3 separate regions of the Homo sapiens genome follow, and all the other regions are reported to be linked to region 2. Evidence: microRNA targets listed by miRTarBase, many of them from high-throughput screens and not tested one by one. Region 2 holds a microRNA gene; each other region holds the end of a gene's coding sequence.
The links. Region 2 holds the annotated microRNA hsa-miR-2276-3p (UCUGCAAGUGUCAGAGGCGAGG, at 917-938, shown strand). A microRNA usually pairs through its seed, bases 2 to 8, with sites in the 3' UTR of a target mRNA and lowers its output. Matches are read on the target gene's strand: a 7mer-m8 pairs with bases 2 to 8, a 7mer-A1 pairs with bases 2 to 7 and ends in A, and an 8mer does both.

Region 1: miRTarBase lists SPTLC3 as a target of hsa-miR-2276-3p. Seed matches in the 3' UTR shown: 7mer-A1 at 1,798-1,804.
Region 3: the mRNA of ADRM1 is a reported target of hsa-miR-2276-3p. Seed matches in the 3' UTR shown: 7mer-m8 at 2,759-2,765.

Annotation. Positions count from the first base shown.
Region 1 is chr20:13,164,362-13,167,361 of GRCh38, forward strand. SPTLC3 (serine palmitoyltransferase long chain base subunit 3) reads left to right here. Exons shown (of 12, transcript NM_018327.4): 12 at 393-3,000. The coding sequence ends at 506. It also overlaps a transcript of TASP1 not described here. Among named protein-coding and RNA genes, the nearest start is that of ISM1, 55 kb to the right of the region's middle.
Region 2 is chr13:24,161,553-24,164,898 of GRCh38, forward strand. It overlaps MIR2276 (microRNA 2276), which reads left to right and starts at 864; the gene lies at 864-952. The region is part of intron 1 of SPATA13 (spermatogenesis associated 13); the gene reads left to right.
Region 3 is chr20:62,308,251-62,311,556 of GRCh38, reverse strand. It overlaps ADRM1 (ADRM1 26S proteasome ubiquitin receptor), which reads right to left. Exons shown (of 10, transcript NM_007002.4): 9 at 3,087-3,189; 10 at 2,695-2,902. The coding sequence ends at 2,796. LAMA5 (laminin subunit alpha 5) reads left to right here. Exons shown (of 80, transcript NM_005560.6): 72 at 21-156; 73 at 250-395; 74 at 463-655; 75 at 728-892; 76 at 985-1,138; 77 at 1,246-1,379; 78 at 1,476-1,569; 79 at 1,722-1,841; 80 at 2,082-2,492. The coding sequence ends at 2,221. Among named protein-coding and RNA genes, the nearest start is that of ADRM1, 6.9 kb to the right of the region's middle.

The DNA of each region.
Region 1 (3,000 bases), not on the chromosome of region 2:
TTGCTGTGTCATGAAGATATAACTTCAAATGCATTCTGCAACCTTATCTTTTTCTTCCACAAGACTACATATAAGTCACTACATTTTAAAATAAAACCTTTTAAGGGTAAGCATGGGTCACATGTTTTTATTCTTCTCTTCACACTCTCAAAATAAAATAAACATTCATAGTATGGAGTTAGACCACTAAATAAAATTAATTAGCATCTAACATTCCTCTAGGGTCTTAAACCACAACCTAATGGTACGGATCTTGCTTCTTTTCTTTAAAATCAAAGAAGCTAGCAAACTAAGACTGTGTGTCTTTGTGAGGCTTGCTATTAATCTGGGCTCTGCAAAGCAGGGCTACTTAGGTGTTCAATGATAGCTATTGGAAAGCAATCTCATTGCAGGTTTTAGAAGCTCTTGATGAAATGGGTGATCTCTTGCAACTGAAATATTCCCGGCACAAGAAGTCAGCACGTCCTGAGCTCTATGATGAGACGAGCTTTGAACTCGAAGATTAAGTTTCCTGGTCCTGAATGACACATAAAGACTTTGCGAGAAAGACCTCCCTCCTTGCCTCACAAGGAATATAAATGGATTTCTCCCCCTTCCTCAGGACAATTTTGGTTCCCAGACCAGCTTGATTGAACTGAGGGAGACGTTGTTGTTTTTAATGTCTCCAGCTTGGACTGCAGAGACAAAAACATGATTCCAGATTTAAGTCTCTCTTCTTCCAAGTATTCTACTAGAAATACACACACACACACACACACACTTCTGAGAATATTTTTAATGGCAATAAGCCTGTGTTTTAGCTGCTACTGTGCAGACCCTTTCAGGGATTCCAACCAAATGCAAATGAGAGAATTTAAAATTTTTATTCAGTAAGTTCACTATGTGTTTACTTATTCCATCTGCAGATGTAAGTGAGTGTGGTGGACAGTAGCCACCTTCCTTGTTCCACTCATAAAAGCATCAGCTAGATCTCATCTGTATCATGGGAAGTTCCAGGCAGGAGGGTAAAGAAATGTTGTTTCTACCATTTGTCACATTTGGACGTTTTTCACAGACAAGTGTCAAAAGACATAGTTAATGTTTCGAGGGGGAAAGCAGAACTGATCAACTGCGACTAGAGACGTCTTTGAAGGAAATTTTCCTTTTCCTCTTGCTGGTCTCCTACAGTTTTACAGCTGAGCTTTTGAGGTTTGGAAAATTCAAGATGTTTGTTTCATAAGAAAAGGGGCAGAAAGCAAGCACAAGACACTTTTAGGTCTAGACTAAAATGGTAGTTACAACAATTTGAACCTTGTTGGTGCAGTGCACGGTGAATGCTTACCCTGCACAGCCTCTATTACCTTAAGGAATTAGTTGTCATTTTCCTATTGAATTTTGAGTAAATGGTGAAATTCAGTGTCCTTTAGAATCGACTCCCAAGACTATATTTGAAGAATGCATTGATTCAAGAAGGACATTTAAAAGCAAATTCTGACTTTTTCAAGACCAACACACTTGTTTAGGCCTATTAAATTGTACTATCACTTGTTACATGCCCTCTGAATTGGGAGAAAGTGGGCTTGCACACTTTGAGGTAACTAACTGTAATTTACTTGTGTTCTCTCTTTCTTGCTCTCCTTCTCAACATGAACACAAACCTCTATGGAAAAGTAGCCTCTTGTTAATCTGATCTAGTTTGTATGGAAAAAGCCCATGGAGAACCTTATCTTTAACAAGCTCCCAGAGGGTGCCCAGATTTGGAAATTCTAGAGAGCAGTGGTGACCTTTTAGCAAAGCTTCTGTAACAGTTCGAATGAGTTGCAGAACATTCCACTCCATCAAATGACACTGTAAACAAATCACTTCAAGAGAGGCTTGGTTTTGTGTGGCACAGATGGACCCAAGCTTTCATGCTGTGCACTGAGATAGAAACTCCACCCGCAGCGCCTGCGATGGATGGAGCAGTGTGCCCTGATGCTCAAAGCGTATTAAAGGAAAAAAAGTGATCAGCATGGAAAGTTTTTATGGGGAAATTATAACTCCAAGTGGGTGCATTGGTTTAAAAATGGATCACAATGATAGAGTTCTTCATGAATGTTTACAAGTTGTAAGGAATACCGTTAGTGAAAGAGGAAAAGAAGTGGGTTCTGAAAATGCAGTTTCCCATCCAATGATTTTGATAACAAAATTCCAACTTTTCTCAATGAAACTGATGCAGTATTATTTGTGCAAATAAAATGTGTCATAAATATGCAAAGAAAGGGAGACATACTGTTCTTATCTTGAATATGTGCATTTAAATGAATTGTCCAAAATGCATAAATGCCTTGCGTTCTATAAAGGAAACAGGAGGTCAAAAAGACAGCGAGATATCTAGTCCTTCCACAAGGTATGGAAAGCAATAAACATCTTCCTTTCTTTCTGGATCTGTCTGTGATGTTTACACACACCTTCACATCTACACTTCAAGTTTTAAGCCCCTAGACATGTGTCTTCATGAGCAGGAATGTCCACTATTATTACTTTCATGGAGGATATTGGGTCTAATTCATTGTGGGAAACTACTTACCTACCCAGCATGGAAGGCAGGGAGGAAGTTAGTCTCTTTTCATCAAGATTCAAGAGTACAGGGGCAATTTATTACACTGCAATGTACAAAACAAAAGGACCTGTTTCTGTTAGAGAGTCCATGTTGAATATACAGGTATGAGAACAACTGTTGATATACAGGTATAATCCAAGTAGAATGCTTCCACAGTGCATTAGAAGGTGCCCAAGCTCCACAGGGCCAATAATATTAGAGTATATGTCATATAGAATAAGGTTAATTAGGAGGGTGATTGTGAATAATGAGATTTTTAATTTTTTTAAGAAAAAGCTCTCAAATGCTAGGCTAATAAGTTCATGATTTTAATTCATGATTTTAATTCATGATTAAAATTATTTGATTATTGAGTCTTGATAATTATATCATCAACCATTACCCTCTACATCACCGCCCCGACCTTAGCTCTAATTATA
Region 2 (3,346 bases):
GAATTGGTACTCCAGCCCCAGGCAGGTAGAAGCCCGCGCTGCTGCCAGCGTCAGGGGGAGCTCGGGTGACTTGGGCTGGGCCACCCATCTGACTGCAAGGTTACAGAGCTTGAGCAAATTTCCCCTCCCTCCAAGTGCAGGAAAACCAAACCAAAGCAAGCAAACAAAACCCTGTGGGTCATTTGCTTCCCAGCATTGCATAGGGATGTGGATAAATAGAATAATACTGTGAATTTATTCAGCTCTTGTTCCCATGGCTTCCCATAGCCTTATATTATGCACCTCCCCCTGCCAGCATTTTCTCTGTCCCCACCTTCGGTTTTTGCTGCCTCGTGTTTTCTTCTCTGTGAACCTTTCCTGGTCACCCAGCGATTTGCTCTCCTTTATTCCCCTTGCTAACAGGCGGAGAAATCTCACTCCTTTTCTTTTTCCACCTTTCCCAACAAATTCTCCTTTTTTCCTAATGTCCCCCTCCCCCGTCTTGCAAACTTCCTCACTGCATTATTCTCGGGGTGCCTGTCATGCACCCTCCCTGTTCTCTGCCCTCCTCCCGCACTTTAGAGTTTCATGTGGCTTTGTCTTATTATCCCATATCCTAATTCTCATCTACCTCCCTTGGCCCCCACGTTTGCCATCTGCCTCCACCCAGTTCTCCCATCTCCTTCCTTATTTGTGCTCCCGTGCATATGCAGGTTTCTTCCTTGTTTCCCCATGTTTCTCCCACAGGTGCTTTCTTCCCTTTGCCCTACTTCTCCCTGGCAGGCGCTCTGCCCAGCCACAGCCTGCCCCGCCTGGAGGGCACACCTTGCCTCAGTGCCTTCTGCTGCGGTTTTCCATGCTCCATCAGCATCCCTGGGTTCCTTGTGTTCTTCCAGTCCGCCCTCTGTCACCTTGCAGACGGCTTTCTCTCCGAATGTCTGCAAGTGTCAGAGGCGAGGAGTGGCAGCTGCATCTCTGCAGGAGGACTCTGGATTTCAGGACCCTCCCTTCTGCCACTGCTTCTGACTGATTGTTTTCTTATTGAAGTCGTATCCTCTACATAGTTCTAGAATTAATGTCAATATTGATGTTAGGTAGCATCTACCAAACTCTGGGTGTGTGCCAAGCACTGTTCTGAGGGCTTAACGTGCATCAGTACTCATTTAAAATCCTCCACACATCCCTATAATGTAGGATCTACTACTGTCCCCATTTGACAGATGAGAAAAGGAAGGCTCAGAGGAGGTAACCGGCATGGCTTCTTGCCACTGCCTAGCAGTGGAGGCCCTCTTCTCACCAGACAGTGGAGCTTCCCTGCTGGGTGACCTCTTGAACTCAGGCATGCCTGGAGTTTAGCTTTGGAAAGGAGGTTGTTATATGACATGTTTTATTTAGTCTGCAATGTACACCAGTGGAGGACATGAATTCTATACCTGTAGGACAGTGCATGGAGAAAAACCTAATGCCGGCTGTCCCTCAGAAAGCCTGGGGCCAGTGCCTGGGCTGTCACCTCATCCATGCTATCAGTCTACTTTCCCTCTTAGCCACAGGAAGCCCTGAAGAAAGTGGCATAAAAATGACCTGGCTGGGCACAGTGGCTCATGCCTGTAATCCCAGCACTTTGGGAGGCCGAGGTAGGAGGATTGCTTGAGCCCAGGAGTTCAAGACCAGCTTAGGCAGCATAGCAAGACCCCATCTCTAAAAAATAAAAATAAGAAATCAGCTGGTTGTGATGGCGCACTCACCTGTAGTCCAAGGTGCTCAGGAGGCTGAGGTGAGAGGATCTCTTGAGCCTGGGAGGTTGAGACTGCAGTGAGCTATGATTTTGCCACTACACTGCAGCCTGGGTGACAGAACGAGAGACTCTGTCTCTAAAAAAATTAAGTTAAATTAAAAAAGAAGACTACTGCCAGCTGTCTCCTCCCGTGCATTGAGAGTTCCGTTTCACTTTAGCTGGACAGATCTTTATGGTCTCTGTTAGCTGTGTGACTGTATGAGTCTTATTTATATCCATTTCATTATGTAATCTTAAAGCCTTGTCCAAACATTTCTTTTTTAGTCTTTATCTTCCTAAGAGTTGGAGGCAAGTAGTATTTCTACTTTACAGATACTGAAGCAGAGCATGCACCTTGATAGCTGAAAGGGACTTTATATTCTACAGATGAGGAAACCGTGGTCCAGGGAAATAAAATGGCATATTCAAGGGAAAGCAGCAGGACAAAGTTGGCTCTAAGGCTTCTCTGGTTCAGGGCTCAATGCCTGGCCCTATAGCTTGGTAGGTTGACCTCTCTGTTTGCTGCTGGAAGCAACAAAGTTTCTTTCCCCTTCCTTTCCCTTGAGCTAAGAGGCATTGGAAGGTTTCACTTAGAAGGGGAACTCATCAGTGCTTTCCTTTCTTTTTTGTCTGAAAACTAAACATTTAAGAAATGTTTGCCTATGAGACATGTAATAGCATAAATGGGATCATAACATCACAGTGGTATAAATTCAAATGTTTTAGAAAGAACTATCATTGTTATTTCTAAAACACCAGGAATGAACACCAAATGTACATGGTTTTCTTGAGGGAAACTATATAATACATGGCAATTTGAAAATCAGTACCTGGAATGTTTAATTGTATTTTACATTTGTGGAGAGAAATGCATTGGTACAAAGTGCTTACCTGATTTTCCTCATCTTTGCATCACAAATGAAAGAGCAGTAAAGGGGGAGCATAGAGTAGGTTGCTGTTTTTCTGTTGGCCTCTGCTGTACCCACATCCTTCTCTGGACTCCCACTGAGCCCCCTTGCTCCTGCCTCTGCTCCCTCCATGTTTAATGCCTCTTTTGGCTCCCCAGGGAACCTGCAGGGTATTGTTGAATTGTGATGCTCACCTCCTCCATACCAGCCTGTCTTGACAGAATGAAACCCTGATGCCCTGAGGCAGGCATCCTATGTGATGGCTTCATCACTCCCTCCTAGGATGAGATGGGTGATCAGGTACCATCCTGGGGAGAAGGGAGGAAGCATTTGCGTGAGGTATCCTCTGTGTTCTGTGGTTTAGGTGAGGATGGTTATAACTGAGGAGCAAGTCAAGTTTCATTGCTCCCTAAATGAGATGGAGGTTCAGGGAAGCTGTCGTGGCCAGAGCCCCATAGTAAGTGGCAAGACTGAGACTGGACCCCGGGCTGCCTGGCTTAGGAGATCCACCTGCATCCCTCGGTGTGTCTGTCTTCCCTCTAACCTGTAACTCCCTGAGGCAGAAACGGCACCACAGAACCTTTCACAACATCGATAGCTCCTGTGTGCTGAGCTGAAGGTGAAGCTGGAGAGGAGAGACCAGGGGACCAGGGGACAAGAGCCTGAGGGCTCAGAGGAGTTCCCA
Region 3 (3,306 bases), not on the chromosome of region 2:
CGCCTGCCCGCCCTGCACAGGCTCCTGGGCCCACAGCGCGTATTTGATCTGCAGCAGAACCTGGGCAGCGTCAATGTGAGCACGGGCTGTGCACCCGCCCTGCAAGCCCAGACCCCGGGCCTGGGGCCTAGAGGACTGCAGGCCACCGCCCGGAAGGTGGGCACCCCAGGGGTGAGCAGGCAGAGCTGGGGTGGCTGGAAGGGTGGCCCCTGTGTGGGCGGCCCCTGCATTCACCATCCACGCCCCCAGGCCTCCCGCCGCAGCCGTCAGCCCGCCCGGCATCCTGCCTGCATGCTGCCCCCACACCTCAGGACCACCCGAGACTCCTACCAGTTTGGGGGTTCCCTGTCCAGTCACCTGGAGTTTGTGGGCATCCTGGCCCGACATAGGAACTGGTAAGGCCAGGCCCGGCTGGGGTGGGCTGAGAGGGGCCGCGCAGGCTGACGCCAGCTCCGCTTCCAGGCCCAGTCTCTCCATGCACGTCCTCCCGCGAAGCTCCCGAGGCCTCCTCCTCTTCACTGCCCGTCTGAGGCCCGGCAGCCCCTCCCTGGCGCTCTTCCTGAGCAATGGCCACTTCGTTGCACAGATGGAAGGCCTCGGGACTCGGCTCCGCGCCCAGAGCCGCCAGCGCTCCCGGCCTGGCCGCTGGCACAAGGTGAGGGCCGAGAAGAAGGAAGGTGGTGGGCAGGGCCTGGCAGCCCTACCCTGACCCATCTCCTGCCCCCAGGTCTCCGTGCGCTGGGAGAAGAACCGGATCCTGCTGGTGACGGACGGGGCCCGGGCCTGGAGCCAGGAGGGGCCGCACCGGCAGCACCAGGGGGCAGAGCACCCCCAGCCCCACACCCTCTTTGTGGGCGGCCTCCCGGCCAGCAGCCACAGCTCCAAACTTCCGGTGAGAACCATCTTGCCCCAGCCCCCACTCCCCACCCACTGTTCCCTTTCAGCTGCCCTGGGCCCTGATCCCTGCCCGGTCTGCTCCTATAGGTGACCGTCGGGTTCAGCGGCTGTGTGAAGAGACTGAGGCTGCACGGGAGGCCCCTGGGGGCCCCCACACGGATGGCAGGGGTCACACCCTGCATCTTGGGCCCCCTGGAGGCGGGCCTGTTCTTCCCAGGCAGCGGGGGAGTTATCACTTTAGGTCTGTGGGTGCTGGCATCCCAGGCCTCAGCAGGGCAGGGCAGGGGGCTCCAGGAGGTTCTGGGGAGGGGCCCCCCCTTTCTTCTCCATCACAACCCCTCCCCGCAGACCTCCCAGGAGCTACACTGCCTGATGTGGGCCTGGAACTGGAGGTGCGGCCCCTGGCAGTCACCGGACTGATCTTCCACTTGGGCCAGGCCCGGACGCCCCCCTACTTGCAGTTGCAGGTGACCGAGAAGCAAGTAAGCCTGGCAGAGGTGGCGTGCCAGGGCAGGGTTTGCCTCCCCATTCTGGTGACCTCGGGGGCATAGCCTGACCCTCCCTTCCTACCCCGCCAGGTCCTGCTGCGGGCGGATGACGGAGCAGGGGAGTTCTCCACGTCAGTGACCCGCCCCTCAGTGCTGTGTGATGGCCAGTGGCACCGGCTAGCGGGTGAGGCCCCTCCTGTGGCCAGGGCACTCTGCCACCCCCACCCTTCTGCAGAGCGGGAGCCAGGCGGGACTCTGGGTGGGGTGGCTTCTTTTGGGGCTGGAGAGAGGCTGGGCTGAGGACCACCTGGCCTCAGGAGTCCCCCTTTCTCCCAGTGATGAAAAGCGGGAATGTGCTCCGGCTGGAGGTGGACGCGCAGAGCAACCACACCGTGGGCCCCTTGCTGGCGGCTGCAGCTGGTGCCCCAGCCCCTCTGTACCTCGGGGGCCTGCCTGGTGAGTGCGGCCTTGATCAAGGGTGGGGGAGCTGCCCCTCAGGACTAGGTGCTGCGTAACCTACCACCCTCCCCCCACCCCTCCACCCCCTGCCCCCTCCCACCCTCCTCCCACCCCCCTACCACCCTCCTATGATGTGGAATGAGACAGGGGCTGGGTGGGGCACTGACGTTTGGGAAGGGCCTGTGGGTCTCTAGCTGCCCACCAACCAGCCTTCTTCCATCTTCCCTGTGCCCCCAGAGCCCATGGCCGTGCAGCCCTGGCCCCCCGCCTACTGCGGCTGCATGAGGAGGCTGGCGGTGAACCGGTCCCCCGTCGCCATGACTCGCTCTGTGGAGGTCCACGGGGCAGTGGGGGCCAGTGGCTGCCCAGCCGCCTAGGACACAGCCAACCCCGGCCCCTGGTCAGGCCCCTGCAGCTGCCTCACACCGCCCCTTGTGCTCGCCTCATAGGTGTCTATTTGGACTCTAAGCTCTACGGGTGACAGATCTTGTTTCTGAAGATGGTTTAAGTTATAGCTTCTTAAACGAAAGAATAAAATACTGCAAAATGTTTTTATATTTGGCCCTTCCACCCATTTTTAATTGTGAGAGATTTGTCACCAATCATCACTGGTTCCTCCTTAAAAATTAAAAAGTAACTTCTGTGTAACCGAATGAATGTTGACTTAAATACGGAGAGAGTGAGTCTCAAGACAGATCTGGAACCGGCCTGGACAGAGGCACCAAACTCTTCCTGGGGTGACCGTTTTCCGTTGTTAGGTCAAATAACTAACTGTCTCTGGGACCCTACAGCAGCTCCCCACGCTAGCACCTGTCCAGCCGAAACTCCCTTTGGGCAAAGAAACTAAGCATTGGCAGGTAAAAGAAAAGACTTTATTAATAATCAGTGGGTGGGAGGTGAGGGTGTGCAACGCACTGCAAGCGCCCAGTTCCTCGGAGGACGGCGCGTGGCTCAGTCCAGGCTCATGTCCTCCTCTTCGTCCTTCTTGTCCTTCGTGTCGCCCTCTTTCTGCTCGGGCTTGGCGTTGTTCTGCATGGCTTTGGCAAACGCTTCCACATCTAGAACACGTTAAAGACACAAGGTGGTGTCTAACCCTTGCCCAGAACTGGGGATCAAAGCGATGGGATCAAGGGCAGAAGGGCTGTGACCTTTACCCCCTCAGCCCCACTTCTGCAGATCCAGGGGGACAGGAATGGACCCTGCCCCTGGCTCTGGCCTGGAGGTGCAGGCGCAGCCACTTACCGCCCTTGTTGGCGGCCTCCACAGCCTCTGCAGGCAGACCGAACTGGCACATGAGGGGGCCCAGCTGCCCCGAGGCCAAGGCTGCGCTGAACATGCCCAGGGCCTGCAAGAAGAGCCAGGCGAGGGCTGAGCTCCAACCCGGGCTGCACCCCAGAGCCACACTGCTCAGCTGCCAGCTCTGCGGGTCAGGCACATGAAGCACTGGCCATGGTGAAGGTGG